Homo sapiens: one gene and its partners. The protein of the gene in region 5 purifies or fractionates together with the protein of the main gene of each other region. This does not show direct contact. Each region holds a gene or a part of one and is shown on either strand. Other genes may lie near its edges.

Evidence for each region.
Region 1: the proteins of MBNL1 (region 5) and ATL3 purify together in Homo sapiens (affinity purification with mass spectrometry; one large-scale study listed by BioGRID and IntAct). This does not show direct contact.
Region 2: the proteins of MBNL1 (region 5) and HRG purify together in Homo sapiens (affinity purification with mass spectrometry; one large-scale study listed by BioGRID and IntAct). This does not show direct contact.
Region 3: the proteins of MBNL1 (region 5) and ENDOU purify together in Homo sapiens (affinity purification with mass spectrometry; one large-scale study listed by BioGRID and IntAct). This does not show direct contact.
Region 4: the proteins of MBNL1 (region 5) and DSC2 purify together in Homo sapiens (affinity purification with mass spectrometry; one large-scale study listed by BioGRID and IntAct). This does not show direct contact.
Region 6: the proteins of MBNL1 (region 5) and ESD purify together in Homo sapiens (affinity purification with mass spectrometry; one large-scale study listed by BioGRID and IntAct). This does not show direct contact.
Region 7: the proteins of MBNL1 (region 5) and OXSR1 purify together in Homo sapiens (affinity purification with mass spectrometry; one large-scale study listed by BioGRID and IntAct). This does not show direct contact.

Annotation. Positions count from the first base shown.
Region 1 is NC_000011.10:63,664,590-63,669,002, forward strand, and holds part of ATL3 (atlastin-3), read right to left. Parts: intron 1-4,413. UniProt on the Homo sapiens protein: Atlastin-3 (ATL3) is a membrane-anchored GTPase that mediates the GTP-dependent fusion of endoplasmic reticulum (ER) membranes, maintaining the continuous ER network. It facilitates the formation of three-way junctions where ER tubules intersect.
Region 2 is NC_000003.12:186,675,499-186,679,132, reverse strand, and holds the end of HRG (histidine-rich glycoprotein precursor), read right to left. Parts: intron 2,111-3,634; coding exon of another isoform or gene 2,087-2,110; coding exon 1,250-2,086; 3' UTR 899-1,249; downstream 1-898. UniProt on the Homo sapiens protein: Plasma glycoprotein that binds a number of ligands such as heme, heparin, heparan sulfate, thrombospondin, plasminogen, and divalent metal ions. Binds heparin and heparin/glycosaminoglycans in a zinc-dependent manner.
Region 3 is NC_000012.12:47,714,866-47,719,278, forward strand, and holds part of ENDOU (uridylate-specific endoribonuclease isoform 1 precursor), read right to left. Parts: intron 4,408-4,413; exon of another isoform or gene 4,282-4,407; intron 3,330-4,281; coding exon 3,264-3,329; intron 2,791-3,263; coding exon 2,653-2,790; intron 2,194-2,652; coding exon 2,025-2,193; intron 1,635-2,024; coding exon 1,435-1,634; intron 1-1,434. UniProt on the Homo sapiens protein: Endoribonuclease that cleaves single-stranded RNAs at 5' of uridylates and releases a product with a 2',3'-cyclic phosphate at the 3'-end. The UU and GU sites are more efficiently cleaved than CU and AU sites. Targets mRNAs to regulate their expression.
Region 4 is NC_000018.10:31,081,644-31,086,056, reverse strand, and holds part of DSC2 (desmocollin-2 isoform Dsc2a preproprotein), read left to right. Parts: intron 1-2,996; coding exon 2,997-3,131; intron 3,132-3,633; coding exon 3,634-3,819; intron 3,820-4,413. UniProt on the Homo sapiens protein: A component of desmosome cell-cell junctions which are required for positive regulation of cellular adhesion.
Region 5 is NC_000003.12:152,271,929-152,275,428, reverse strand, and holds part of MBNL1 (muscleblind-like protein 1), read right to left. Parts: intron 1-3,500. UniProt on the Homo sapiens protein: Mediates pre-mRNA alternative splicing regulation. Acts either as activator or repressor of splicing on specific pre-mRNA targets. Inhibits cardiac troponin-T (TNNT2) pre-mRNA exon inclusion but induces insulin receptor (IR) pre-mRNA exon inclusion in muscle.
Region 6 is NC_000013.11:46,776,101-46,780,513, forward strand, and holds part of ESD (S-formylglutathione hydrolase), read right to left. Parts: intron 3,934-4,413; coding exon 3,835-3,933; intron 1,524-3,834; coding exon 1,356-1,523; intron 1-1,355.
Region 7 is NC_000003.12:38,227,623-38,232,035, forward strand, and holds part of OXSR1 (serine/threonine-protein kinase OSR1), read left to right. Parts: intron 1-2,064; coding exon 2,065-2,113; intron 2,114-2,742; coding exon 2,743-2,808; intron 2,809-4,413. UniProt on the Homo sapiens protein: Effector serine/threonine-protein kinase component of the WNK-SPAK/OSR1 kinase cascade, which is involved in various processes, such as ion transport, response to hypertonic stress and blood pressure.

The DNA of each region.
Region 1 (4,413 bases), on a different chromosome or scaffold from region 5:
AATGACACACAGCACATACAATAAGCTATTGTTTTTTTGTTTTTTTTTTTTGAGACGGAGTCTCGCTCTGTTGCCCAGGCTGGAGTGCAGTGGCGCGATCTTGGCTCAGCGCAACCTCCGCCTCCCGGGTTCAAGCGACTCCCGAGCAGCTGGGACCACAGGCATGCACCTCCATGCCCGGCTAATTTTTGTATTTTTAGTAGATAGAAGGTTTCACCATATTGGCCAGGCTGGTCTCGAACTCCTAACCCTGTGATCCACCTGCCTCAGCCTCCCAAAGTGCTGGGATTACAGGCGTGAGCCACCGCACCCGGCCAATAAACTATTGTAAAATGAATGAATGACATGTACCATAATGTGGTTGAAGGCTACAACCCAAAGGATCCAAGTGGCATTGTCAGAGCAGTAGACATGGAAGATAAAGTTACGTGGTTACAAGATGGGGTAATCCAATGATAAGAATGTATACAGTTGAGACTGGGCATGGGGGCTCATGCCTGTCAATCCCAACACTGGAAGGCCAAGGTGGGTGGATCACCTGAAGTCAGGAGTTCAAGACCACCCTGACCAACATGGAGAAACTCTGTCTCTACTAAAAATACAAAATTAGCTGGGCGTGGTGGCACATGCCTGTAATCCCAGCTACTCGGGAGGCTGAGGCAGGAGAATCGCTTGAACCCCGGGAGGCGGAGGTTGCGGTGAGCTGAGATTAAGCCATTGCACTCCAGCCTGGGTGACAGAGTGAGACTCCATCTCAAAAAAAAAAAAAAAAAAGAAGAATGTATACAGTTGTGTACAGTGAACTGCACTTCAAGAGAAGCTGAAGACTACTGAGGACAGCTATGGGGGAAAAGTCCTTACTCATCTCTTCCTCTCCCTGTAGCACGGTACCCAAGAATAAAGGAAGGGAACCAGGCTCTGTTTAGTTGGAAGAGCTGGGGTGATTCTGCATTTCTCTTCACACCAGTAATATAAGCATGATTATCAACACCCACCAGATTAAAAAAGATCTTGTTGGCCAGGCATGGGAGGTCTCGCCTATAATCCTAGCACTTTTGGGAGGTTGAGGCAGGCAGATCACCTGAGATCAGGAGTTCGAGACCAGCCTGGGCAACACGGCGAAACCCCATCTCTACTAAAAATATGAAAATTAACCAGGCTTGGTGGTAACGCGCCTGTAATCCCAGCTACTTGGTATCACTTGAACCTGGGAGGCAGAGGTTGCAGTAAGTCAACCACTGCACTACAATCAGGACAACAGAGCAAGACCCTGTCTCAAAAAAAAAAAAAGATGTTGTTCACTGACAGTGATCCTTGGGTTTGGGCTTATGTAAGGGAAGAATTATTTTGAGCTGTACACACCAATAATGCAAGTTAAATGGAGCTGCTTATATATTACACCTTTTTTAAGACTGGGTCTCACTCTGTTGCACAGGCTAGAGGTGCGGTGGTGCAATCATGGTTCACTGCAGCCTCAACCTACCGGGCTCAGGCAATCCTCCCACCTCAGCCTCCCAGTATCATCTCACTGCAACCTCTGCCTCCTGGGTTCAAGCAATTCTCCTGCCTCAGCCTCCTAAGTAGCTGGGATTACAGGTACCCACCACCACGCCTAATTTTTGTATTTTTAGTAGAGGTGGCGTTTCACCACCTTGGCCAGGCTGGTCTCGAACTCCTGACCTCAGGTGATCCACCCGCCTCAGCCTCCCCAAGTACTGGGATTACAGGCGTGAGCCACCGCGCCCGGCCTACCCTCTATTTGGATGATACAACTTCACAGATCTCTAACTTGCATTTAGTCTAAATGTACAACTGCCTAAGGGACAGATTCACCTGCTTACTCTCAGAAGTAACCTGTGGAAATATACAAATTTAGGACTCAAAACACAAGTTCCTGTTCCAGCCCTGCCACTAACAACCTGTGTGATCCTGGGCATGTCTAGTTTTCAGTTTCATCACTAAAATGGGTCAAGTGCTAACTGGGTGTGGTGGCTCATGCATGTAATCCCAGCACTTTGGGAGGCCGAGGGGGGTGGATCGCACACCGTGCGATCAAGTGATCTATCCACCTCAGACTCTCAAAGTGCTGGGATTACAGGCATGAGCCACCGTGCCCGGTCCACTTGTCAGGAATCTTAAACTCTGGAGATCTAGTCTCCGGGGAGGGTACTAAAAATATCTGTAAGTGGCAACTTTACATGCCTTGTCCCTTTAGAGAAGCAATTATTTTCCAAGGTCTAATTCTGCATACTGCAACAACAGTTAATGCTGTATTACATTACTTACATGAATATGGATAACGTGATGTTTTTGCACAGACACAAAGCTACAGCTGGACCACTGTTACATCTATCATTCATATGTATTTATGTGAATTTACAACATATGTTTAAAATTCCAGAAATAAACAATTCGTAAGTCTTAAGATTGCAACGCAGTTCTTAGTACCATGATGAAATCTTGTGCTATCCTGCCTGGGACATGAATCATTCCCTTTTCCAGAGTATCCACACTGTATATGCTACCATGCCCATTAGTTATTTAGTAGCCTTCTCACTGATCAACGTAGTGTATACAGGGCTCAGTGCTATCAGCAGTTTCAGGCATCCACTGGGGGCCTTACAATATATGCCCCTCAGATAATGGGGACTACTTCATTGCTGTAAATAGCTCATGATAATATTCTATCACTCATCAGTTCAAGTATGTAGAAAATGTTGAAAATCTTTGTATAATTAGAAAGCATTTTTTTTTTTTTGAGACAGATTCTTGCTCTGTCGCCCAGGCTGGTGAGCAGTGGCGTCATTCCTGCTCACTGCAACCTCCACCTCCCAGGTTCAAGTGATTCTCCCACCTCAGCCTCCCAAGAGTTTAGGATTCCTGAGAAGTGGGCCGGGTGCAATGGCTCACGCCTGTAATCCCACCACTTTGGGAGGCCAAGGCGGATGGATCATTTGCAGCCAAGAGTTTGAGACCAGCCTGACCGATATAGTGGAACCCTGACTCTACTGAAAATTCAAAAAAATTGGCCAGGCGTGGTGGTGCATGACTGCAGTCCCAGCTACTCGGGAGGCTGAAGCAGGAGAATCACTTGAACTTGGGAGATGGAGGCTGCAGTGAGCTGAGATCGCGCCATTGCACTCCAGCCTGGGTGACAGAGCGAGACTCTGTATCAAAAAAAAAAAAAAAAAATGACAGTGTAGACTAGGGTTTCTCAACCTCAGCACTACTGACATATTGACATTGGAGCTGCACAACTGTTGTGGGGGGCTATCCTACGCACTACAGGCTATTGAGCAGCATCCCTGGCCTCTACCCACTAGATACCAGTAACACTCCCCACAACAGGTTCTAACACCCAAAAAACGTCTCCAGTCATTGCTAAATGCTCCAGGGGCAGGAAGAGGCAATATTACCATAGGTTAAGAACCACTGAGTAGAGTCAGCCTTGGTGTTTATCCTTACCATTCAAAGAGTTCTGAATACAAAGTAACCAACCAGTCACAGAAACACTTTGCTGAGTAGATTCATGTATGACTCAGGGTAAAGTTATGACCTGAGTTTTCCAGTCTCCTTATAAAATATCATATTCTCCAAAGGGCAAGAGCAACACACCCAAAACAGAGGCATACCATTTTCATGCCTTGTTCTTGCTGGCAGTCTTTAAGGTTTCTAACTGACAAAGCCAGAGAAAACATCATCACAGGCAAGAGTAAGTATACTAAGACCTTAGCCAACTCTAGAACTGCTGGGTGTGGTTCCTTCTGGTGGTGGAGGGGTGGGTGCTTTTATATACCGTTTTGTCTTAAGGCAGTGATTGTGCCAGTAGATACACTGCAATACGCTTAAGGCTGTTTCAGTGAAAATACTATTTAAATCTAATTAACCAGAATACTGGGCAAATTTTATATTTGTCTGTTGTAGAAAATCTTTTCGCCATAGCACAGAAGGCTGAACAAAACCATATTTTTTGTTGTTGACTAAGGATTGTGTAATGCTTCATAGGTTTACAAAAATTATCTATGACTAAATGGTACTGAAGATTCAGAAAATCCAAGGAGAGGGCTGAATCTGAAAATGATGCCAGGCTATATCACAAGTGGAGGAAAAAAACCTTTTTAATGGAATGAGCTCAGTAACACTTTTGTATCTCTTTCCTAAGAATAAGAATGCCACCAAAGGTTTGAATTAGCTGTGTTCCTTTTTTTTTTTTTTTTTTTTTTTTGAGACAAGGTCTCACTCTGTTGCCTAGGCTGGAGTGCAGTGGCAAGAACAAGGCTCACTGCAGAAAAAAGAAAAAAAAAAAGGCTCACTGCAGCCAACTTCCTGGGCTCACTCCATCCTCTCACCTCAGCCTCCTGAGTAGCCAGAACTACAGGCCTGCAACACCACGTTGGCTAACTTTTTTTTAAT
Region 2 (3,634 bases), about 34 Mb from region 5:
AGTGAACTTACCTGAGACTAGCAAGAGAGTCGTTAGCTGAGGGAGAAGGTATAGGGAGAAGAGTGAGGTAAGGGGTCTCTGAGGCAGAGGAGATCTCTGCCCTGCTTTCTGGGCATGCAGCTGGGAAGACAGCAAGATCCCAGGGAGAGAGCAGCCATATGCCATACCTTGGCAGTCATGTCCATGGCTAGTGTACAGACATTCCTGCACCCCCAGTTTTCTACAGAAGTAGCAGATAAATCAGACTGAAAGAGTGATGTGAACAGGGTTGTGACTATCCCTGAGCAGGATGGCTATCACTCATGATGATGATCATTGGTCCAACAGTCACCCTGGCTGAGGGATAGTCACTATCCTGCTTCCTACCACCTGGACAGCTTGGCATGGTGTGAGATCCTAGAACTGTGGCCCAACTTTGTGTGGAAAGTAGCAGGGCAGGGAAAGGGGACTCCAAGAAGGACTGGGGTTAAATTTCCACTAAGCCAGTAGGATGGCATCCTCAAATAGAAATTAATTTGTTCTGAGCATAAAGTGACATTTCTTATGCACCTGAATTTATGGTCATGATTCATGTTAGCAAGCTTCTTTGCAATTTATAGCCAGAGGTTTGTTTGCTTCAATACTGAATTTAGAACTTATTTTTCCAAAAGAAAATTTAGATGCCTAGTAATAATCACGAGGAGAGAATTTAGGTCACTTTAATAATAATAAATAGGGGGAGGGTGGGAAGCAGGAGAGCATTCGGAAAAAGAACTAGAGCATGCTGGGCTTAATACCTAGGTGATGGGTTGATAGGTGCAGCAAAGCACCATGGCATGCTTTTACCTATATAACAAACCTGCACACCCTGCACATGTGCCCTGGAACTTAGAAAATAAAATGAAATAAATGATAACAATAGTTTCAATACCATACTTTATTAGTATGCCCAGGTATAGCCCAAGCAGTAACAGAGACTCTAGAATTAGAGTTAAGTCCAGGAAAGAAGGAGATTCTGAGTGGCATAGATTTGTCTCAAGTGATGTAGTGGTGAGTGACAGAATTAACTACTAATAGGCAGCACTGAGTTCTTTCCTCTCCTTTCCATTTGATCTCTCTTCTCAGGCCATCTCTTTTCCCATTCACATTTTGCTGCATCTTCAGTATGAAAGTAGGTTGAAAAGAACTGTAATTTTCACAATTACTGGTCATTTTATTTATGTTTCTAATTCAATGTATTATTCATTTTCCTCTTCAAAGGAATCACATTTTATTTTGGAAATGTATGTGTAAAAAACATGGAAACTTGTGGAAACCCACTCTTGAACTTCCCTGGACATGATTCAGAGACTGATTGAGGAAAGGGCTGATTGTCTGGCTTTAGAGGATGTTTGTGGTGCGGCAATGGGAAGCTGGGAAAATTGGCCTCAGGAAGTGGCAGCACCTCACCTTTTCTTAGAGGAGGGAGTCGGTACACAGATCCAATTTGTCTGCAATGGAAGGGACGGGGTCCTTTACCTGGGCCTCGCCTTCTTAAGTGCCCAGGTGGTGGGCCGTGGCCATGGCAACAGTGACCTTGGTTATGGGGTGGTGGGTCACAAGGTCCATAGTCTTGGAAATCATGGCAGTGGGGATGGTGTCCATGGGGATGGTGTCCATGGGGGTGGTGTCCATGAGGATGGTGTCCATGGGGGTGGTGTCCATGGGGATGCTGTCTATGGGTATCATGTTCATGAGGATGGTGTGCATGGGGATGGTGTCCGTGGGGATGCTGTTCATGGGAATGATGCTTATGGGGATGGAGGTCACTGGAATTATTATTATGAGAATGTCTTTGGGCCCCATTTGTGCCAAAAGTGGCATGTTGACAACTTGAGCAGGACATGGGCAATAGTGGAGGAGGGCCTTGTGGAAGTGGGGGTCCATGTGAGTGATCTCTTTCATCTGGAGGAGGTGGGGGTCCATGTTCGTGTGGCTTGTGGGGATGATGATGATCTCTAGATCCATGGGGCTTGAATGGAGGCTTGGTGGTAGAAGAACGCTCATGCCCACCCCAGTGGAAGGGATGTCCCAAATGAGGCGGTACACCATTGATGTTCTCATGTTCCTGGAAAAGGTCACAGAAAAGTGCCTATCATCATGTAACATAAAAGAAGATGTTAGATACTTGACTTGATTTACACCAATGGCTCCCAGATCATAGATTCCACAAATCAATTTAAAAAGTATTACGAAAAAAGATTCTCAAATTGTTATCTAGCCCAGTTGATATTTAAAATATTAACAATAACTATCATTTACCACCATCATTGTTTCACAAAAGAAACTATTTTTTTTTTCTGAGACTGAGTCTCGCTCTGTCACCCAGTCTGGAGTGCAGTGGTGCGATCTCTGCTCATTGCAACATCCACCTCTCAGGTTCAAGCAATTCTCCTGCCTCAGCCTCCCAAGTAGCTGGGACTACACGCCCAAGCCACCATGCCCACCTAATTTTTTTTTTTCTTTTTTTGAGACATAGTCTTACTCTGTTGCCCAGACTCCTAATTTTTGTATTTTTAGTAGAGACAGGTTTCACCATGTTGAACTCCTTGTTTCAAGTAATCCACCCATCTCAGCTTCCCAAAGTGCTGGGATTACAGGCATGAGCCACCATGCCCAGCCTGGAATGAAATTTTGATTTAAAAAAAAAAGAAAGAGCCAGAAACACAATATCAGAGTAAAGGATTGTCCTTTAGATGGATAAATGTTAGATATAAAAAACTTCATTATCCTTATTTTTTTTTCATTTTTACTACACAGAGTGGTGAAACAATATTATGACCTGGCACCCATCTGTAGACCAACACTGGAAAACTAGTGCCTTATAACTGATATTCTTAACTGAGGCTTGATGGTATCAACATCCCTTACTCCTAAAGGCTGAACACTTGACCTCTTCTCTCTCTTCCTTGTTCAGAGTTTAATTTTTTAAAAAATAGCTACAGAGGCCGGGCACGGTGGCTCATGTCTGTAATCCCAGAACTTTGGGAGGCTGAGGCAGGTGGATCACCTAAGGTCAGGAGTTTGAGACCAACCTGACCAACATGGAGAAACCCCTTCTCTACTAAAAATGCAAAATTAGCCAGGTATGGTGGCGCATGCCTGTAATCCTAGCTACTCAGGAGGCTGAGGCAGGAGAATCGCTTGAACCCAGGAGGCAGAGGTTGTGGTGAGCCGAGATGGCACCATTGTATTCCAGCCTGGGCAATAAGAGCAAAACTCCTTCTCAAAAAAAAAAAAAAAAAAAAAGACAGAGCCATGTTCATGGTGACAATCCTGCCCTTTGTTCCTTTTTCTTTTTTTTAACTTGGGATTGGATGTTTGGATTATTTTAAGTTTTGTTTCTGATATGAAAAATTTCGTGAAGCAAATCTTTGTACTCATGTAAAAAATAGACCAAAGATTTCTGAGACAGATGCAAAATATGGTTTTGCATCTTATTTTATATACATTTACATAATAAATTTGAGGCTGATATATTCCTCTTAGATTCTATGCCCAATAATATAAGCTTAGGAATGACTAAGTCTCAGCACTAGAGTCCCGACTACAAAGAGCATTTTCAAATTCCTTCAAGTTTGGTTGAATTGGACATGATTTTAATTTTCTGCCAATT
Region 3 (4,413 bases), on a different chromosome or scaffold from region 5:
GAATACAAAAGAGATACCAGACATATTCCTTCCTTTCCAGGACTTAAAACACATTTGGAAAACAAGACTACATAAAATAACAGAGAATGGTTTCACACACTGAATAGTTCCCCTTACTGAGCAAGGACTGAGTGCCAGGCTTTCTACTGGGTGCTTTATAAGCAGTCATCCTCAAAAACCCCATTTCAAAGGGAAGTCCCAGAGAGGTCAAATAAATTGCCCAGGGTCAAGTCACTAGCAAGTGGCAGAGCCAAGATTTAAACCAAGTCTCTCTGGCCCAAGGCTATTGTGGACCACACTCCAAACTCTGCAGAGGTGCCGAAAGCCAGAGTGAGCTGGGGCAGGTGCAGCCTTCACAAATGCGGTGGGATATGAATTATCATAGAACTTTAAGGATAAGTGGGATTTGGACAAGGAGAGAGGTGAGGAGAGAGTTAGTAACGGGACAGCCTGGCCTTGGCATCGGAACCCTGAGTTCCAGCCCCAGCTCCGCTTCCAACTCATTTGTGGCCTCAGATAAGTCTAGCCTGTCTGGCCTCCGTTTCTCTCATTTGAAAAGCCCTTGCTCAGTCTAGACCTCCAAGATTCTCTTGTGTATTTACTACGAAGAGAACGCCAGGGGGCAGCACAGGATTGCAACTTCTTCATAGAGTCACTCTTGTGTCGCTGTCACTTTACCTAAAAACAGTGTCACCAACTCTTAAGGGAGGCAGCAGCTCTGAGCCAAGGCACTCTCAGGGACAACGAGGGAAGACCCGGACAGAGCCACCCCTGAGACAAAGCCCAGCTGCCTGGAGTTGGGAAAGGAATCTGCAGGACAGTAACAAACACAACTCCATGCCAAGAAGTCCTGCGGCCAAAATCTTTTTTGGTCTGACTCAAATGTGTCTCTACCTGGAGGCTTTCCAACCACAACTCTTCCCGATAGGACTTCCCGCTCTGAACCTTTGTTGATTCTCTGATGTTGTTTCCCCAGCCAAAAGGTGGACTCAGCCAACCCGATTCCTGGACTTTATTGCGGGAGGAGGGAGTAGAGTCAGCGACTCTACCTGTCTGAAACATGGTGCTGACTCCAGGATCGCGGAGGTGGCTGAGACGTGCTCTGGGTGGGGGTGGGATGTGAGGGGAGGCTCACACCTGGCAGAGAACCCTGAGACTGTAGCAGAGGGTGGGCGTGCATGAGGCAGTTAACATGAAGTCAAAGGTGGGGTGATATCCAAGCCAGCCAGCCAGAGGATGTGCCAGCTCCTGGTTGGGTTCCTAACCTCTCCTTGGCTTCCCCCTGGCCTCATCCCTCATCCCTCCCAGATGTACACTGACCTCCACAGAGTCCCCACCGCCTCCTCACCTGCCCTCCTAACCTTCCCCTCCCCCGCCCACCTGGCTTCGCTCAGACAGACTCATGCGCTCTGGGGCCTGGGGGTGCTCACTCACTCTGGTGATGGAGGAAGCTGTAGAGCTCCTTCATGACTGCTGTCTTCATGATCTCTCTGAGGAAGGCGTCCTGCTCGGCCAGCTCCTGGGCACTGAAGTGCTCCCCATGGCCTGTTGCCCGCTGGTAGTTGTTGAGGAGGTTGATGAAGGCTGCATAGGTGGGCTTGGAGAACAGCTTCTCATTGACATAAGTGAAGAGTCTGGGGGAGGCAGAGGGGAGCCCCACTGAGAGCCCCAAACACAGGGCAGCGACCCCTCCAGAGACTTCTAGACAGGCCAGGGGCAGACAGGCGAGGGCTGGGTTCAGGAGCCGAGGGGGCACTTCGGGTACTCTTGAAAGTCACACATCAGGTCACTTTTCTTCCACCTCATGTTTTGGAAGAGCTGTTCTATCCTCAGCCTGGCCAATCACAGAAACCCTCCCAACTGGATATCCACAGTCCCTCAAGATGGCTTTGTCTCTGGAGAACTATTTTTTTTCTGCTCTCCCTTTGATCGTGCCTGACTTGAGGATAAAAAGTCGAGACATCGAAAGAAGCAAGGATAGGGGCAAGATTTAGGGGGTAGAAAGAGGAATTGTGGGAACTCACGGCTTTGGGCAGCGATCCACTTGGTTTCTGGTCTCTGACGGGGAGATGCAGTTTTGGCTATTGAGAACGATGTCTTCCTTCTGGGCTTTGTTGGTGTCTGCCCTGTAGATCTTCTCAGAGATGCTCTGAATCTCCTCTTTTGTTATGGCATCACTGCTGTGGGAGACCTCTGGGAGGAATTGGAAGAGGGGTGGCCTCAGAGCCAGAGGGAAAGGGGGGCGGGCAGGAAATTATCTGTGTACCTCCCCTCCTGGGCACCTTCAAGAAGCCAGCAAGGAGGGAGGGGGGCCACAGTTGGACACCCTAGTGGTGGACAGGGGCCCAGAGCCTAAAGGACGTGTAAAATCACCACACGGCATTGCCCACAGAATGTCCCCCGCCCCTTCCCCCTAGAAGGGGTCTCACGCTTGAGCATGCATCAGAACCACCTGGAGGCCCTGGTAGTACAGGACAGTGAGTCCCATCCCTAGAGTTTCTAATTAAGTAGGCCCGGAGTGAAGCCCCAGAGTTTGTGTTTCTAACAAGTTCTCAGACATTGCTGAAGCTGCTGGTCCAGGGACCACATGTTGAGAACCTGCTCTAAAGTCCTTCTGTCTCTGCAGCTTAGCTAAGGGAGCAGAAGACTAACCGTGGTCACTACACAGGCTCTCAAAATCCTTGCAGCAGTTCCCAAACTCTTGGCAGCGGGCATTGCAGTGACATTGGTGGTGCTTGTCAAAGGCTTCGTAGCAGCGGCCCTGGCAGGAGGTGGGTGCCGAGTACAAGTCTGAGAAGAGAGGGGTGGTGTGTCCCGGGCTGACCTCTAGAGGTCGCTCTGAACGCCCCACAGGCTGTCGCTCCCTAGCCTGGCTGTCTTCACTCTGCCCAGTAAAGATCTCCAGGGAAGGAAAACAAACAAACCTAATTCGTGCACACCCTTCACAGTCAGGAAGTCCTTTCTGATGCCGAACTTTACTTTCTGGCCTGCTGTTTTTCTAATCTTCTCATTCTAAAAATAAAATCTCTTCCACTTCCCTCTCCAGGCCTCAGGCTCTCTTTCCTAGCTACCCTCCTCCCATGGCCCCCCAGGCTGGCTGAGCCCCCCCAGGCTTCTTCCTGCCCAGGTTCCCAGAATCCAACAAGCCTCTCTCATCTGGCTGAGGCCTGGGCCTGGTGCCACTGCCATGGCCGCCCCTGCTTGTCACCCTCATGTCCCTCCTGCTTTATCTTGAGGGCCCCCCTTTGGGGAGGCAGGCTCACTGCTGGCGAGGGCCTCTTCTGTCTCTTCCTCCAGCTGTGGCAATGGCTCTGACTCTTTGTGGTCCTCTGCAGGTAGATAGAAAAATAAAGTCACCAACAACCTGAGAATTCCCCTGCTGCTTGGTTTCTGGTTCTCTGTTTCCCCAGCCTCAGGGGACAAGCAAGGGCACTGGAAGCAAATTCTGAACAGGGGCTGGGGTCCAATGGACAGGCACCAAATAATGATGATGAAAACAGAAAATGGAAGATGTTTCCAATGGAAGACACATTATAGAAAACTTATAAAAAAGGAAAATAATTTCCCCAGGTGACACATCTGGATTGAAAACTCTGACTTCGGTGATGAAAACTCTGATTTAACAAAAGTTGACAGATGGATAGAGGCTTGATGCTGTCCTAATGACAAAGCCCTCACTTAGGAACATCCTGTACCTAGAAAAACTTCTCGTCAGAGCTCAGGGTAAACTCTCAGGGCCTCAAGGAATAAGAGCTGTTTCCTGAGATTCCAACTTCCCTTCTTTCTTTGCCCCACTTGGAAATGGCCACAAAGACTGTGTCTAGGGAAAAGGCATGTTCAGAAAAGCACATTCCTATTGCTGCCCCTTTCCCTTCACCTGCAAGCTGAGTGACTGTAGCTCAGCTCTGGGTGGAGAAGGGTGGATTTGAGGTTGGGGGTGATGCAGGGGGGAGAAATGTTCCTGGGGACTCTGAGTTCCTCTCTCATCACACAGTGGAATAATCCCCCCACCAGCACCCCCTCCACACACCCAACAAACAGTACTGTTACAAAGTGATTCAGAATCTACTAGTGAGTTTGCTGGAAAGTTATTACCATCAGAACTACCAGTTAGGTTATTCTTCAGTCAACAAACATCTTCTGATCACTTACTATGTGTCAGGTTGTGTTCTAAGTGCTGGCAATCCATGGAGTTCTGAATTCAGCCACATTTTATGCTAAACAGAATTTTGTGTGCTGAGCTGGAATCCTAACCATCATTTCCAATATGTTTTTCTATAGGAAAGGGGTTCTGAGTTGCAAATCAGAAACTTGAAGATGAAATGGCTACTACGCTGGGTATTGCCTTTATCTTGAATGCCAGCCTGATGGTCCAAGGTGAACAAGCCTTCCTGTGTTTTCTGAATGGTAAGA
Region 4 (4,413 bases), on a different chromosome or scaffold from region 5:
ATATATTCTTTCTCTATTAATCATTTTCTATTGTCACCTTGGAGTCATGGTCTCCAAATTGTATTTGATGTCTCTTGGCCCCCCTGAATCACATCACTTCCTAAAGCATGTTTTTACCTCCAAGATTGTTTTAAATCTATATTCTGTCTCTTTCTACTGCAATACCCTAGCTTAGTAATTCATTCACTTAGTTATTCAACTATTACCTCCTCCCTGAAGCATTATTCATCTAAATTCTTATAGCAGTTTCTGTGTCCTTATTTACTATATTTATAATCCTTAATCTTAAAATATAGTAATAGATGTTTATCAGGTATTTTATTTGATTCTTAAGTCTTAAATCTTCAGATTAATTTTCTCTTCCTTCCTCTATCCCTCATGGATTAGGGTAGAGGTTCTCAAAAGCTTTGGTCTCAAGACCAATGCTTGACATTATTACATATTGTTAAATATTGTTGAATACTGTTAACAGTGTTAAATATTGTTGAAAATCCCAAAGATCTTTTATTTATCTAGGTTATATTTATCTATGTTACTTGTTAATGTTTAAAACTAAGGAAAGTTTAAATTATATATTAATTTAAATATTAAAAATAATAAATTAATTACATGTTAACAGTTAAAATTCTTATAAAATAACAGTAAAAATTGTTACACTTTTTCTTCTTTTTGTACTTACAAAATAAGTACATTTTCCAAAACAGTACAATTTAGTGGGAAGAATGACATTGTTATGCATTTTTCCAAATGTTTTTAGTATTTTGCTTAAGACAGGTGGATTCTCATATCTCCTTCTGCATTTAGTCTGTTACAATATGTAGTTTTAGCTGAAGCATATATAAAGGCAATCTGACATGATATAAAATTAGAAAAGAGAGTAGTATTTTGATGATAATTACAGATCACTGTGGATATTATTCCTTGATACTACATGAATACTTGATAAGGAGTAGCTTGTTTCCTAAATGTTTTTGGTAATGTGGACTCTGAATCCTCAACAATGACCTTTTGTACTTTATTACGTTAAAATCCATTGCTCTATCTTACACTTTGAGTGACCATTTTACCAGTACATCATTCTATATTGTGCATTGGTCATTTGGAAAATATTGGTTCACCAAGTAATGCAGAGCTTCCAAATATTGACACATTGCATTAAATAATATCAAAAAGATCACCTCTTTACTTCCATTGATATCACATTGGTTGATAAAGGTTTTCCAAGCTTCTCATTTTTGTTTGAAATCTCCAATTTATCATTGGCAACAAATAGTTGTTTTCCCTGAAGTGACAGATTAACTTTATGTTTTACAAAATACTTTCATAAAACTATAGTCTGCATAGCCATAGATGTCTATGTGAAAATAGCATTCTATGGAAAAAAAAAAAAAGCAAAAACTCAACAGCTTGTTCAGCTCCTAAATCAAACAATCACAGAAGTGCTTTTCTTTGAATAGATTCTTCTGAAATAATCAGTTGAAAACACTTGTCCAGTGAAGGTGTTTATCCAGTGGTGCTCTCTAGTAACTTTTTGACCTCAGGATTCCGGTTTTCTTCAGTTGCCTACAACCTTTTAGTCCCTTTAAACATCAGAATTTCTCTTCCATCTGAAGATAGCATAAGTTAATACTTAGGGTATCAAACTTCATTTCCTTGTTTCATTAGCCAGTTAATTATTTCCAATAAATTTTAGTTCACTACAAACAAAATATGTATTCCTTCTTGAAAGTACAGTAGCATGATGTTTTAAAATTTTTCAGTTGAAATAAGGCCATTATTTTTCAAGTCTACACATGTGATTGGTTATGAGGGAGGAGTAAATCTGGAAAATTATGTGTGTTAAAAGCAGGAAGATCAAGAGAAACTTTAGTTTTATTTTAGATAATGCCTAAGGAAAAGAAAGTTTCAGAGATGATGGAATTAAGGGAAGAATCTTTGTAAGAGAAGGGTGAACATTCTAGGTAGAAGATGAGGATAGATTTTAACATGCTATTTTGTCTTATGAAAAGAGATAAATTAGGTAGGAAAGGTAAGCATCACCATCTTATAGAAGAAGAAACCTAGACAAAGTGAATTTTCCAATTGCCCAAGATTGTGTCTCTTATTTTTGGAGTTGGAAATAGAACCCAAGTCTCCTAATGCTCAGTCCGGAAAGCATTATTACTGTATTGTTTTTAATTCTCCCATATCTCAATCACTTATGATAAATGAAAGTTATAAGGAGAAACACTTTAAAATATTTAAATGCTTCAGATGTTTAAAAATATTTTTTAAGGTAGTGATGAGTTTTCAACAATATCTGATAAATTGAAAGCCTTAAGAGCCAGATTCTATTTTCCACAGAAAGAAAAAAACCTACATAGCCCCAGACCTTTATCTTCATGTCAGTTTAGATGATCTCTTAAATGTAACATAAACCCTTAAAATCTATATTTTTTGCAGGAAGAAATTTCATTTTATTGTTTTGTTAAAAGACTATTTTAAGAGTCATTGCTGTCTATTTTTTTGAACATAAGAATGTACTTTGGCTAGGAGATAAAGGTTTTGATTAATTACCAGGCAATTTTAAATGCACTTGTGGCAAATAGCTCTTCTTTTTCTGTTGAATAAAGACAAAACCAATTGAATCTATATTCTGTAAGTTAATAGCACTATAAATTTGAGAAACTATTCAATTTTCATAAATTGATTAAAAATTCCTAGTGTGATTCTCCTGCCTCGCTTGAACCCGGGAGGCAGAGGTTGCAGTGAGCCAAGATCACACCACTGCACTCCAGCCTGGGCAACAGAGCGAGACTTCGTCTCAGAAAAGAAAAAGAAAGAAAAGAAAAGAAAAATTACTAGTGAGAGAAAATTCTTCTAATACACGAATGCTGTGAAATGTAATAATGCACTTCTTAAATTCTTAGTGCAAAAAAATTATGGAGTGTAAAGTAAGATTTCAATTATAATGTTGGTGCTTTCCCCCAATAATTAAATTCTTTTTTTGTTTTCAGTTAATTGACAAGTACCAGTTGAAAATAAAAGTACAAGACATGGATGGTCAGTATTTTGGTCTACAGACAACTTCAACTTGTATCATTAACATTGATGATGTAAATGACCACTTGCCAACATTTACTCGTACTTCTGTAAGTGTATGATATTAATTAAAGAAAAATGTATAGACCAGTTTTAATTGTTTAATATGCACATCTCTGGCCTGGCGCAGTGGCTCACGCCTGTAATCTCAGCACTTTGGGAGGCCGAGGCGGGCGGATCACCTGAGGTCAGGAGTTTGAGAACAGCCTGGCCAACATGGTGAAATCCCGTCTCTACAGAAAATACAAAAATTAGCCGGGCATGGTGACAGGCACCTGTAATCCCATCTACTCGGGAAGCTGAGGCAGGAGAATCGCCTGAACGTGGAAGGCAGAGGTTGCAGTGAAGGAAAAGAAAAAAATGCACATCCCCATCCACCCCTCATGATTTCAAATGAAGTGCCCCAGTGACATTAAAAGTTGTATAGTGCTAGGGTTTCAAATCATGTAAACATAGTACTTTGGAAATTAGAAGAGTAGGATTTACTTCACATCGTGTTCAATTTTTGTGAGAGTTACTAACGAAATTTTTTGTTTGCTTTTATTATTTTAGTATGTGACATCAGTGGAAGAAAATACAGTTGATGTGGAAATCTTACGAGTTACTGTTGAGGATAAGGACTTAGTGAATACTGCTAACTGGAGAGCTAATTATACCATTTTAAAGGGCAATGAAAATGGCAATTTTAAAATTGTAACAGATGCCAAAACCAATGAAGGAGTTCTTTGTGTAGTTAAGGTAAGAATAAATTAGAACATTATTTGTAGTTTATAATATCATAGAATAGCATGCTAGAATTTAATGGAAAGAAAGGAATTCTGATAAATGTAGAATAAAATAGGTATATAAGTAAATGCAAATGCTCTGTTCTTCATATACAATGGAAAGAATATATTAGTTTTTGATAATCTTTTGTTTAGGTATTTTTTTTTTTAAAAAGTCCATATAATACAATATCTATTTTGTAACCAATATCTTTAAATGGTTCAAAAACTAGCACAGCTTTGATGCCCCTGGGACAGTGCCAGACTTTTCCTAGCCCAGTTTTTCTGTGTTTGGGTCAAGGAGCCTTTATTTACTTACTGAATTTCCCAAATCAAGAGTTACTCTTGGTCAGCCCCATGGAGAGGTTATTCATAGGTTTGTTCATCATATTCAGTATATATTACATCCTTAGCATCCAGGTTCAGAATGAAAATCCTCAGTGATTCAACAATGCAAACACTTCTAAAACTTCTTTCTAATACTATTTCAGCAGCCAGAGTTAGTGCATAAAGCAATCTGAGCTCCTTTAGCCTTGGACAAATTTATAGACTTATTTCTGCTGCATCT
Region 5 (3,500 bases):
AAACATTAGACTTTCAAACCAAATTTAGATATAGTGTTTATAAGAACTCGTGGTGTATCTCTTCAGAACCTGGCATCTTGAAACCAAGATCTGGTAAACAGAAACATCAGTAAGGGGGCCTTTGATAGGGGAATACTGAATTGCAAGCCTAGTCAGTGACATAAAGCTTTTCTCATCCATTTCTTACCCACAGAAAGCCCTATGTCCTCCAACTCTTTGTATCTGTCACTTAGCTTGACCACCCTCCTGCTTTCTTTCTACTAGAAGAGTTATCCGTCCACAAAGAGTGCTAAAATGTCACTGTTGTAATCAAACAACACAGAAACAAATAAAATGCTAATGTGTCACTTTTACTGTCATCAACAAATGCTGATAAATTATTGGATATGATTGAAATTTCTGGATACAATAAGCTGAAAATGGGCTGTAAATTCTAATACTGAGACAAGTTAAGAAAATATCTTTGATAATATTCTAAATACAAATATGAACTGCTTAAGTCCTCATCTTGAATCCTTTATATTTAGCATAGCACAAGCATATAACCATGGATTGACTAGTAAACTGTAGTACCAACAGTTTGTAACTATTTAGTGGCTGCAACAGCTGATATTTCATGGTATTCAATAGTAAAACTAATGACAAAATCTATCAATAATCTAGTATAGGACATTTGGAAACCATTATATTTCTCCTAGATAAAAGAAATAAATAAATGAATTAAAACATATATGAAAATTCGATATCTGAATGTTATCTATAAACATATGGAAAATATGGAACCATTGCTGAATAGAATACTGCGTTAACAGAATAATATTTTGCTAAGGCTGAAAAATACTGAATACCTTTTGTTCCCATTATTTATGCATTTAAGGACTGTTCCCTTTATTACATGTATGTGGGTCAAGTCAGAGTTATCTTAAGACTTTCCCTTATCTGAACTTTCATACCATGTTACCCAGCCATTGTTTATTAAATATCACTTTCTACTTTATAGTTATTTTCGAAGCTCTTATTTTCCCTACCAGATTCTTATTTTTTTGAGGACAACGTATATCTATCTTGATTAAGTTTGGTAGATTTCACTAAGTCTACTGTGGTATTTTTTCACAATATGTATTCACTTATAAATCAACTTTATATGATAGAATAATATTTCAAGTCAGCAACGTAATGCTTATTTCATAGAACTAAATGTCCCCATAAATCTAGAATCTTCTTAGCTCTCTAAAACAAGTTCATTTTTAGTTAATAGCTTCTAAACTTTTAAAAGTGAAAACGTAGGAAAAAATCCAGTGTCAAATACAAATTTTTGGAAAACTACTTTGGAGAAAGACATCTCTTCATTTTGTGAATTTAGCTAAAGCAGGACTGGAATGGAGTTGACATCAGCATGGACATCATCACTGGTATTTAGATTTCATATTTACCACAATTCTTCTTAATAGTATGATATTATTTAACATTCAGGTGATTTGAATAAATTGGCATTGTCTTGGGGAAAGTTATATGCTCATGCATGCGTTACATACAAATTGTATGTTCACACTTCACAGGAGTATGTATTTTGCATACCTTTATCAACTATTATTCACCTCTTTTGGTATATAAAACATACATCTCTCAGTTTCCTAAAAGAATGTCAAAAGAGATGATGGTTTTTCTTTTGGAGCATATGAGCATGATATTATTTCAGAAACATCTTCACCTTTTTGGAATAACTGGTCTCTGTGGAAAAGCAATTCTCTACTCTGTCCAATATGGCTACATTTCGTTTTGAGATTAATATTTCCTGAACTGTTTTAACAAAAGATAATCATAGTAACCTAGAGAACATAATCAAAAACAGTAGAAAAAGAACCAAATGTGTAAGACTTAATTCTCCTAACACAAATATTTCAAGATGTGTGTTACACATATTTTTACAGATTTCACAGGCACATATGATGAGATGCCTCTCTAAAAACATGAACGATTATCTGAAAGAGATGTTCTGGATCTGTTATGAAAAAAACTGGTAATATGTAGAAAACTATAACCATGTATTTACTATTTTTTTCCTCAAGGATGTATCTGTAATGCTTATATAAACGTTTATTTTTTATAATATGAAAAACACTACGTAAAAACCGATTTCTCTACCTCAAATTTAAAAATAAAAAATATGTCTAGAGACAGTTAATGCCATATGCCAATAGCTCTTCTTGAATCCTCTGCCTTGCAATCAATAATTCTCCAACCATTAGTGAATATGCTCCATGACTCATCAGAAACAATATACAAAGTTAATGGGGATCATTCTTCCCCTCACCCTCCACACACGCACTGACACTAATGGAAGCTATGCCTCATCTAGTGGAAGACAGACTCAAGATGGCACCAAGCTGAGGCAACTCTTCTTGAGGCTCTATATACAAACTAGCTAACCTCCCCACGAAGAATCCACAACATCCATTTTACATTTTTTGGCATCCTTCGAGAAAATAATAGTAAGCATACTTTATATGGCTAGAAAAGAACCACATTTTTTTCAGCTTAACACTCACTGTGAATGGCAAAATGTACTTCAGTTATGAAAATATCTGAAAGGAATGTTTCCAGGACCTATGCCATTGTGCTTTGTTTACCAGTCAGATGCCTTCTCAAGAATGTGTTCAAATTATAAAGACAGTGTCTCCATGTATAGAAATTCTTCAGAGCCCATAATGTTACGTTAGAAACACATTTTCACCTTTGCTAATATTCAAAACAATACCCTCCTATCTGCAGGTAAAAATCTTTCATTCTTATGAATGCAGCAATCTTTTATTAACATTTGCTCAGGACTTTGGATATGGGTTTTTTTTTTTAACTTTCTAAAGAAAGTTCTAGCAAAAGAAAACACATATTAAGTATTTGAAGATAATTGCTATTTACTAAAATCTCTATTTTAAAATAATTTTAGTGACTCGTTTATGTTTGGTAACTTCAGGACAATGATAACTACAGTGTCTCTAAAATGTTCCTAAGTAACAATCATACTCTATTTTGGCCTTTGAGAGGTGTTAAGACTCATTCTCTAATTATAAGTTTTTCTCTATTATTACTACCTCACCATCAAATCTCTAAACTAAATAGCAGCTTTGAGGAAATAAAAATAGATGTTAGGTGGTGTGTTTTCTCAAATTTTGGTTACAATGGATAAGAAAGACGAGGTATTTCTATGTATAATAAAATAAGCCAATTTTATTGTTTTGACCAGCAAAATCTTTAAGCTTTCTCCCAGAATATTGTTTTCCTGCTTTATCCTAGAACAACACTGTCCAAAATAAATACGATGTTAGCCACATTTGTTATATTTTCTAGACACCATGAAAGAGAGAGAGAGAGAGAGAGAGAGAGAGAGAAAAGAAACAGGTGAAGTTAATCTAGTAAGATCTTCTATTAGAACCAATATATCAAAAATTATCATTAAAACATATCATAAATATAAAAATATTAATCAGATGTTTTACTTT
Region 6 (4,413 bases), on a different chromosome or scaffold from region 5:
AACGTATTACTATATTTATAGTCAAATTGGTATTTGGATTTCTCAAGGCTGGTTGTTGACCTAAAATTTAATTGTGATGGTAAATGTTCAAATAAATCTAAAACAAAATTCTATTACTCAAGGATGGACACTAAGAGACAAACAGTATATCATGTATTAGTTTTTGACATTTTCTCACTATATAGTTCACATGTGCAAAATATCCCTAAAAACAGGAAGACTGCTCAGATCTTCTGCATAAGTTACGTAGGCAGCAAGCTATGCACAATTTCTCCTTGTGCTAGCTCTAATTCCATTCCTTTGCTCCTCAGGAGAATATCATGCCGTCTGAAAATGGCTTGATAAATGACAGGAGGTCAGTATTTGCAGTTAAATGGCCTTAGTTCCAGTTCTGGTTCCACCACTTACTAGCTATGTGGCCTTAGATAAGTAGGTTACTTCTCTGAGCCTGTCTCCTCATTTGTAAAACAGATGGATAGGAAAGAAATGATATCTCATTTGGCGGTATAAGAATTAACAATGAGTTAATGCTGTGAAAGCATTTTACAAACTAATGTACCACATTACACACTGATCTAGATTTGAACATTTACCATCGTAATTACATTTTAGATCAATGTGCCTGACACATTATCCTTAAACATGGATAAAAATTTATTTAAAAATCATGACCATGTATAATTTTCAGTGCTCATTTTTCACTCTAAAATATTTTAAATTATATTCTGAAGCTTATGAATTTTTCTTAAAAATAAAAGCAGAACTTCCTTAATTAGGACTATGGTAGCATATATAGAGTTAGGTGAGTAGTGGACGGTCAAAAATATTTTAGTTAAAAAAAACTTGCAAGCCCATTGGGATTCAGTAATTATTCTTAAACAACTAGAAATATCAAGTAGCACAATGAATAGATTAATATGAAAGTCAAATAATATAAAGCACATGTGTGATAAATAATACTTAACTTCTGAGGCTAAAATATATACATAAAATAAGGAGTAATTTAGGTAGAAGTTTGTCCTTTTTATTCTACTGCAGCAAAGGTCCATGTGTAAAGAAAGAAGTATCTGCTAATGCTGAAGATTAATCATCATTCAAGCATTAAAAATCTTGTTATTTACTGGTTTGATGGAAAACAATATTTTTCACTGCCAAAAGCTTTCCTATTTCTATCAAATTTAGTGTTAGATATAATTAATTTTATAGGCAGGTTTTCACTTCAAGTGTCTGAATATAATTAAAAACTTACTAGAAGTAGCATTTTATATTCTAAAATAAAGTTAAGAAAATATCACAGAATCCTAATTTTTCATAGTTACATTATCTAGATCAAGCTAAAGTTTCCTAATACTTGCCTCTTGCAATCGAAAAACAACGGGGATTTTCTTTTCTGTACAGGCAGCTATGAAGTTATCAGGGAGTAACTGTCCATCTAAAAGAAACTGGTCATCTTTCCCTTGATCAATTAGTATGTCCAGCTGAGATCCTGGATAGGATTTCACAAGGTGGGTAGCATCATAAGCCTGTAAAAAGAGAAGTAACATTGAAAAATAAATTCAAAGATACTCTTCAGGATATACTATACTAGTACCAAACAGAAATTTAAAGTTATTTAAGCTCTTAGGCTGATTAAATCAGAAATATGCTTTTAAGTTGGTTCAAAATCTGACTTGCCAGGCTTTTATTTACAAGGTCTTCGGAATTCTATTTTCTAATAATAGTCTCTTCCCTACTTTCAAGCAGTCCTAGACTAGTGGCAAGAATCCCATATCTCAGGGATTCTTAAGAAAATGGCCTTTTTCCTTCTAAACCTTTAATATTCTTAATCTCCTCTTGGCTCCAGCAAGAACATGATTTTTTTTCCTTTGTAACTCCTTCCACAAATTGGAAACTAGAAGCTTCTTCTAACTCCATGATCTTTTTCCAAATATTCTCTATTTCAGATAATCTTTTTTTTTATGTCTCTTCTTTATGGCTGTAATTCCAGACATAAACACATTCAGCCTTCTTTTTTGCTGTTGAACAGCACCAAACCTCTGCTATCTACATAAGCTTTCAGAAACACCTGGTGTGAATCATCTGAATCATATCAACATCATCTCAAATTTATTCTCTGAGGAGCTGCCACTAGTTACAATTTTATGTTTTATCATCCACCTCGAAATATTCTTATTCATATATATTCATTAACCACAACTTTATACATTGACCAAGACAAACAACCACGAAAAGATTTGTCCTCTAAGTATCCTGCTTTTGAAGGTTCTATTTCCTTTCATCTTAGAGTGGGAGAGGACCTATAAAGTCTGACTAGTTAGTTCTAAATTCTATGATTTCATAATTCTACATGGTTTCCTGATTTCAATCGTAAATTAAATAATACCCTAAATACAACATAATTAAGACAGTAAAATCTACTGTCACTTGGAGAAAAGTACATATCTAGATTCCTTTTTAGGTTACCTGTACCTCTACCTCTCACCTTCACCCTCCAATTAGTTGGTCTTTTACCCAATTCTTCTATTAGACCATAAGCCCCTGGTGGATGTGAAAGGGTCACCATTTTCGTGACAAAACAGCTCAGAACCTAGCATAGACTTTGCACCAGATGAAGACTCAAAACACTGATGTACATGCAATGTCAGTTCTCAAAGGACCTAATCCTAAATCATTTCTAGCATTCTTCAAACATAGTAAAAATTCAAGCCTAAACAAAACTGTAATCTAGTTACTAAAGGATGAACCCTTTAATTAGTTAGAATTTCAGTAATCATCCTTAAATAAAATGTGTTGGAATTTCAATAATCATCCTTACATAAAATAGGGGTTCATGTAGGAATGAACCCTGAACACAGAACTATACTTTAAATACTTTAAGACAAAGAAGTTGCATTTTTTACCCATTCAAGTATTTTCTGCTTGTTAACAATACACATCATGATGAGTTCATTTGCAAAGTATTCAAACTCTTGGCAGAGTTTGTAAATGGCCCATTTCTGCACAAGAGTAACATGGCTCTCAGGAAAAAGGGTCATTTTTATTTCCACTTGAAAGCACCTGTTTGCATGCTTGAAAAAGCAATCTTGCTGTGGGAATATTCACATAAATGTACATAACAGAATATCTATTTTTAAAGACTCGTGTCTGGAATTTAAAATCGAGATCTGAAATGCTAAATTTTGAAAACAAAGTAATTTAAAAAGCCAGGCTTCTTTGCTTCTATTACACAACTGAGCACATAGTTAATAAGAGGCAAGTCTAAATTTAGTAACACAGGTTGAACATCCCTAATCCAAAAATCCAAAATCAGAAATGCTCCAAAATCTGAAACGTTTTGAGTACCCACATGACGCTTAAAGGTAATGCTCCAAGGAAATACCCATTGTAGCATTTTGAATTTTTAGATTAGGGATGCTCAACCTGTAATATATGGTATTTTTAGATTAGGGATGCTCAACCTGTAATATGTGGTATTTTTTGGTTAATTTAGAAGTGATGTTAATTTAGAAATAAAAATATAAATTAACCATTAGTAGAAAAAAAATATAGCCCCAGAATATCTGCCATGATTCAATACAATTAGAAAGTAGGGTTTTTTGTTGATTTATATATATATATATATAAAATAATATATATAATAATATATATAAAATAATATATATAATAATATATATCTCATATATTGATATATATATCGATATATATATATCTTTTGCTAATTTGTCTCAGCTCTAGAGCCCTAACATGAGCAGGGTAGGAATATAATATATGTCCAACCTTTTAAACAAACTTGAAACTTAAGAATGAGTATTAAGACAGCCATTCAGTACCTACCTTCCATTTACTTTGATCTGTTCCCAAATATCCACTAAAGGCTTTTTTGCCCCAGGGACAGAGTACAGGGTTGCAAATTGGAGCAAATGCTGACACAGACTTCAGAAACAAAAGAAATTTAAAAACAAGTTATATTTTGCTAAATTAAATATGAATAGATATTTGCAACTTACTTAAAAATATAGAAGTTACTTGCAACTTGCTTAAAAATTCTGACTTGCCATGAAAACCCTGTGAACAATTTTCCTTTTGATATATTGCTGGCTTAGATTGCAGGCCTTTCCATAATACATCTTTTGTGTATTCTATTAAGAGAGCTAATAAGTATAGTTGCTAAAATAATGCAAAACAATACATTGCAATTTAAGATACAAACAGAAGTCTATGTTCAGCGTTTCTGCTTTTTTAGCACTGAAAATTAATCTATAGTGATATAAAACAGTTCATGCTTACCTTAGTGAACATGTTACTAAATCTGACACATTTCTCTTAAACAGTACCAACAAAGCAGTGAGCAATGCATTTCAATATGACAGAATTTTTAATACAACTCTGTGTTCTATACAATGTTCTTTTTCA
Region 7 (4,413 bases), about 110 Mb from region 5:
AGACTAGAGAGAGTATAGGAGAAGCGATATTCAAAGAAATAATGGCTGAGAATTTTCGAGAGTTGATGAAAGACCTATATTCTCAGAGTAAAGAACCATCCCCCCAGAATTCCAAGCAGTGTCCCCCTTCTTCCACTTGTACAAGTTGCTGTGAAACTACTGGACACGAAGCAAAGACAAACTCCTACAGGCAACCTCGGGGAACAGATTACCTACTGAGGATTAGCAGGTAGACTTGACAGCTACTTCCCCAATAACACAACAGTTGAGGCCAGCGTTTAGTGAAATGCTCAGAGAAAATGCAGTCATGTGTCACTTAAAATGATGAGGATACATTCTGTAATATGTGTATTAGGCAGTTTTGTCATTGTTTGAACATCGTGGAGTGTACTTACACAAACTTTGATGGTACAGCCTACTGCATGCCTAGGCTATTTAGTGTAGCCTGTTGCTCTGACTACTGTCAGATACACAGTATATTGTTGGCCAAAGCATTAAGAGGCTCATGACTGTGACTTTAACCCAGAGTTCTCCAGCTAGTCAGACTATCATTCAAGAATGAGCATGAAATTATTTTGCACACAGAAATTGAGTTTTCCAGTCACGTTCTGTCACTTAAAGAACCCATAAGTTGTACTTTAGAAAGAAGGAAATGAAGTCAGAAGAAAGGAATGAATAATAAGAAGCAATGTTGAGCAATCACATTGTTGAGCATATTGAGAAGCAATTGTTGAGCATATGAAAAAATAAGAGTGATAATGTAGGATTTCAGTTTGCATAGCACTTTCACATTTATTCAGCTTTTTAATCTTTATAATAATCATCTGAGGTGCTGGTTCTTAAACTTGAATGCCTATTGGAATTACCTGGGGAGTTTTAAACATTACTAAAGCCAATTAAAGATTCTGCTTTAATTGGTTTGAGGTACAGCCTGGTCATTGGTTTTGTTTGTTCGTTTGTTTGTTTTTGAGACAGTCTTGCTTTGTCGCCCAGGCTGGAGTACAGTGGCACAATCTTGGCTCACTGCAACCTCCGCCTCATGGGTTCAAGCAATTCTCCTGCCTCAGCCTCCCAAGTAGCTGGGACTACAGGCGCACGCCACCATGCCCTGCTAATTTTTGTGGTTTTTTTAGCAGAGACTGGGTGTCACCATATTGGCCAGGCTGGTCTTGAACTCCTGATATCGTGATCCACCCACTTTGGCCTCCCAAAGTTCTGGGATTACAAGCATGAGCCATGGTGCCCTCTGGTCATTGGGATTTTTACATTCTTCCCAGATAGTTCAATGCACAGCAGTGTTTAAGAACTTAGGGGCTTGGCCAAGTAATACTGAACCTTAGAGAGGTTGTGATTTGCTCAGGATCAGGTAGGTGTGTGGCAAAATCAGGTCCAGTCTCTTAAATGTTAAATTCTTTATTCTGAATGATACTCTTTTAAAAGCTTGTAAAATTGACAGTCGTGTCTTTACTTAAAAGGAAATAAGACCATGAAGAAATGAGTTAAACACTGAGTTTTGTTAAATTTGGGGAATATACTTTTAGAATTTTCATTTTTAAAGGGAGATTGTGAAATCTGTTTTTAGGGATCTGTGGTTACCTAAATTGAAGGCTGGCAGGCTACCATGTGGCAAGAAGTGGAGGTCTTGATTTGGTCCATTTCCTCTTTGTGTGTTTAAATATATTTTTATGCCTTGCTAAAAATGTTAGATAGATATTTTCTAGCTTACTTATTGGGAAATAATATTAAATATTAAATTAATATTATTAAATAGCAAATATATTAGACTCTATTAAGAAATCATGCTTCCAGAAAAAACATTTCACTAATGATTTTTTCAAAGAATCTACAATAATTATCAGAATATTTGTTTTGAGTTTTTTATTTTATTCAATGTCCTGTATCAAGTTTATTTTACTTTTGCTTTTTAGCAGTTTAAGGAAAGTAGAGTATACTGAGTTTTTATTTTGCTGTTGAAAAAAATTTTTTCTCATTTTTGATGATGGAATCTGACATTACACTTGAATTAATTATAAAAACTTTTCTTCCCTCCCTTCCTGGTTTTAGACCAACAGCAGCAGAACTATTAAGGCACAAATTTTTCCAGAAAGCAAAGGTAGGAAATTCCAGCTTTTGATTATGTGTGTTCATAGGATGCTCCTCAATTACTCAGATTATGTTCAGTGCTTAGAAGTTGGATGATTATGTTTGGAAAAATGATGGTAGATAAAATAATTGCAGAAAGCACTATGTATACAGTCTTTGATAATTAAGATAATTGCTTCAGAATTTAGTAAATCCGTTTTTAAATATTAGGTTAAACTGATCATAGGAACAATGATTATTAAATTTTGCCATTATAAATATAATTTGTGAAAAATACCGAACTCTGGTTTTAAGGTTTACTACTGAATTTGTAAACATCTCATTTCCCAAATATATCAGATAGTAGGATGTTACTGTAGTTGGAAATGTAGGACCATGATCTCAAAGAACATACAGTACAGCAAACTCTTCATAGACAGTGGTTCATACAGTGTACTACATCTTAATTTTCTGCCTCAATTTATGAAACTGTGGTAGTAACATACTAAAGGAGCTTCAGAGTGAAAGAATGAAAGTTTTTCTCACACTTCATTACAGAACAGTTACTATATCACATTTTGATTATGGTGAACTTTTTTGTGGGTTTTTTTTGGTACCTTAAAAACTTGTAAGAACAAAATACTTACTTTTCCTCTCCAGAATAAAGAATTTCTTCAAGAAAAAACATTGCAGAGAGCACCAACCATTTCTGAAAGAGCAAAAAAGGTAAATCAGAATTTAACTCAGTTTTCCTGAAGAATTTACTTTATTTTTGCATTTTGAAAACATGTTAAGTAATACATTGTTAATAGTATATGAGAATTACTGGTTTTCTGTCGATCCTTTCTAAAGCATTCTTTGATACATTCATTCAGCAAATATCTTTGGTCTACCATATGCCTTGGTATTACTCTGCTATCTTTTAGGATGAAAAGGGATGCTAGACAGTAATTGGTAAATTAATTCTAAACTCTGTTTGATAACTGTTTCCAGCTACCAGAGTGAGTTGTGATTTTACATGACATTTATAGCTTTGGGTATAAGTCACAGTACCCTCTTTGGAACTCCAAATTTTCTACTGCCTTTACAGAAAGACTGAAAGAACTTTATTACGCATATGTAATTTCTAAGAAGTTTGGTCATGATGTGAGCATACAGAATGCTTTAATATCTCAGTTTGGGCAGAATATATTAATCTTCCTGTCCATGATACTTTTATGAACCTCTGTGAGAGCAGGGAGAAGAAAATCCTCCCTTTTCCTCACTCTTACTTCTCTGCTCAAGCAGACTTATCCAATGTGAAGGAAAGGAGGCAGTTTGGGCTTCTGCTGATGATAGACTTGAAGAAGGTAAAGGTCTTACACCTTGTATAATATAGTGGTAGGCCTGTCCAAGAAGTTAGAAGCATTATGTCTAGCAGTGGCTTATTCTCTTCCGTAGATCTCACTGCTTGGGAATTTTGATACATTCCAAGAATTTAACACAATGAAGAACCAGAAATGTATATTAAATACTTGGAAATGATATTCTTAATAAGCACTGGTAAAACAGTTAACTTGTCTCTATTTTAGAGATATATCTTTTTCAGTGGCTATAATGCATCGTTACATATCAGAATCACTTGGGGACTTAAAAAAAAAAAGAAAGAAACATGGACAATGTCATCCCAAACCAATTAAAGTCATGACTCTAGTGGATGAGACCTGGACAATTATTCTCATGGATAGCTACTAGGTTAAAAACTCACTTGGCTCATTCCTTCACTTTATGTCAAGTCTACTCAATTGGCCTTTCCTCAGAATAATATTCTCTGATTACTAAAACAGTACCCTCCCATGACTCTCTATCCCTTTACCCTACTTATCACCATCTGACATTTTACAGTGTTTCTTTACCATTAGAATAACAGCTTAATGAGAACAGGGACTTTTTTTCATTGCTGTATCTTCAGTGTGCCTAGAATAGTTCCTGACACACAGGATATTCTTAAATAATATGTATATATTTTTATGCTTATTAATAATATGTATAAAATTTCTATGCTTATTATTGTTTATAATAAATCCCATCTGAGATACGTGTTGATTTATATCTGAAATCTGATTAATTTAAGAAGAGTAAGTTGGGTGCAGTGGCTCATGCCTGTAATCCCAGCACTTTGGGAAGCCAAGGCAGGTGGATCACTTGAGGCCAGGAGTTCAAGACCAGCCTGGCCAACATGGTGAAACCTCGTCTCTACTAAAAATACAAAACTTAGCCTGGTGTGGTAGTACATGTCTGTAATTCCAGCTACTCGGAAGGCTGAGGCATGAGAATCATTTGAATGCAGAA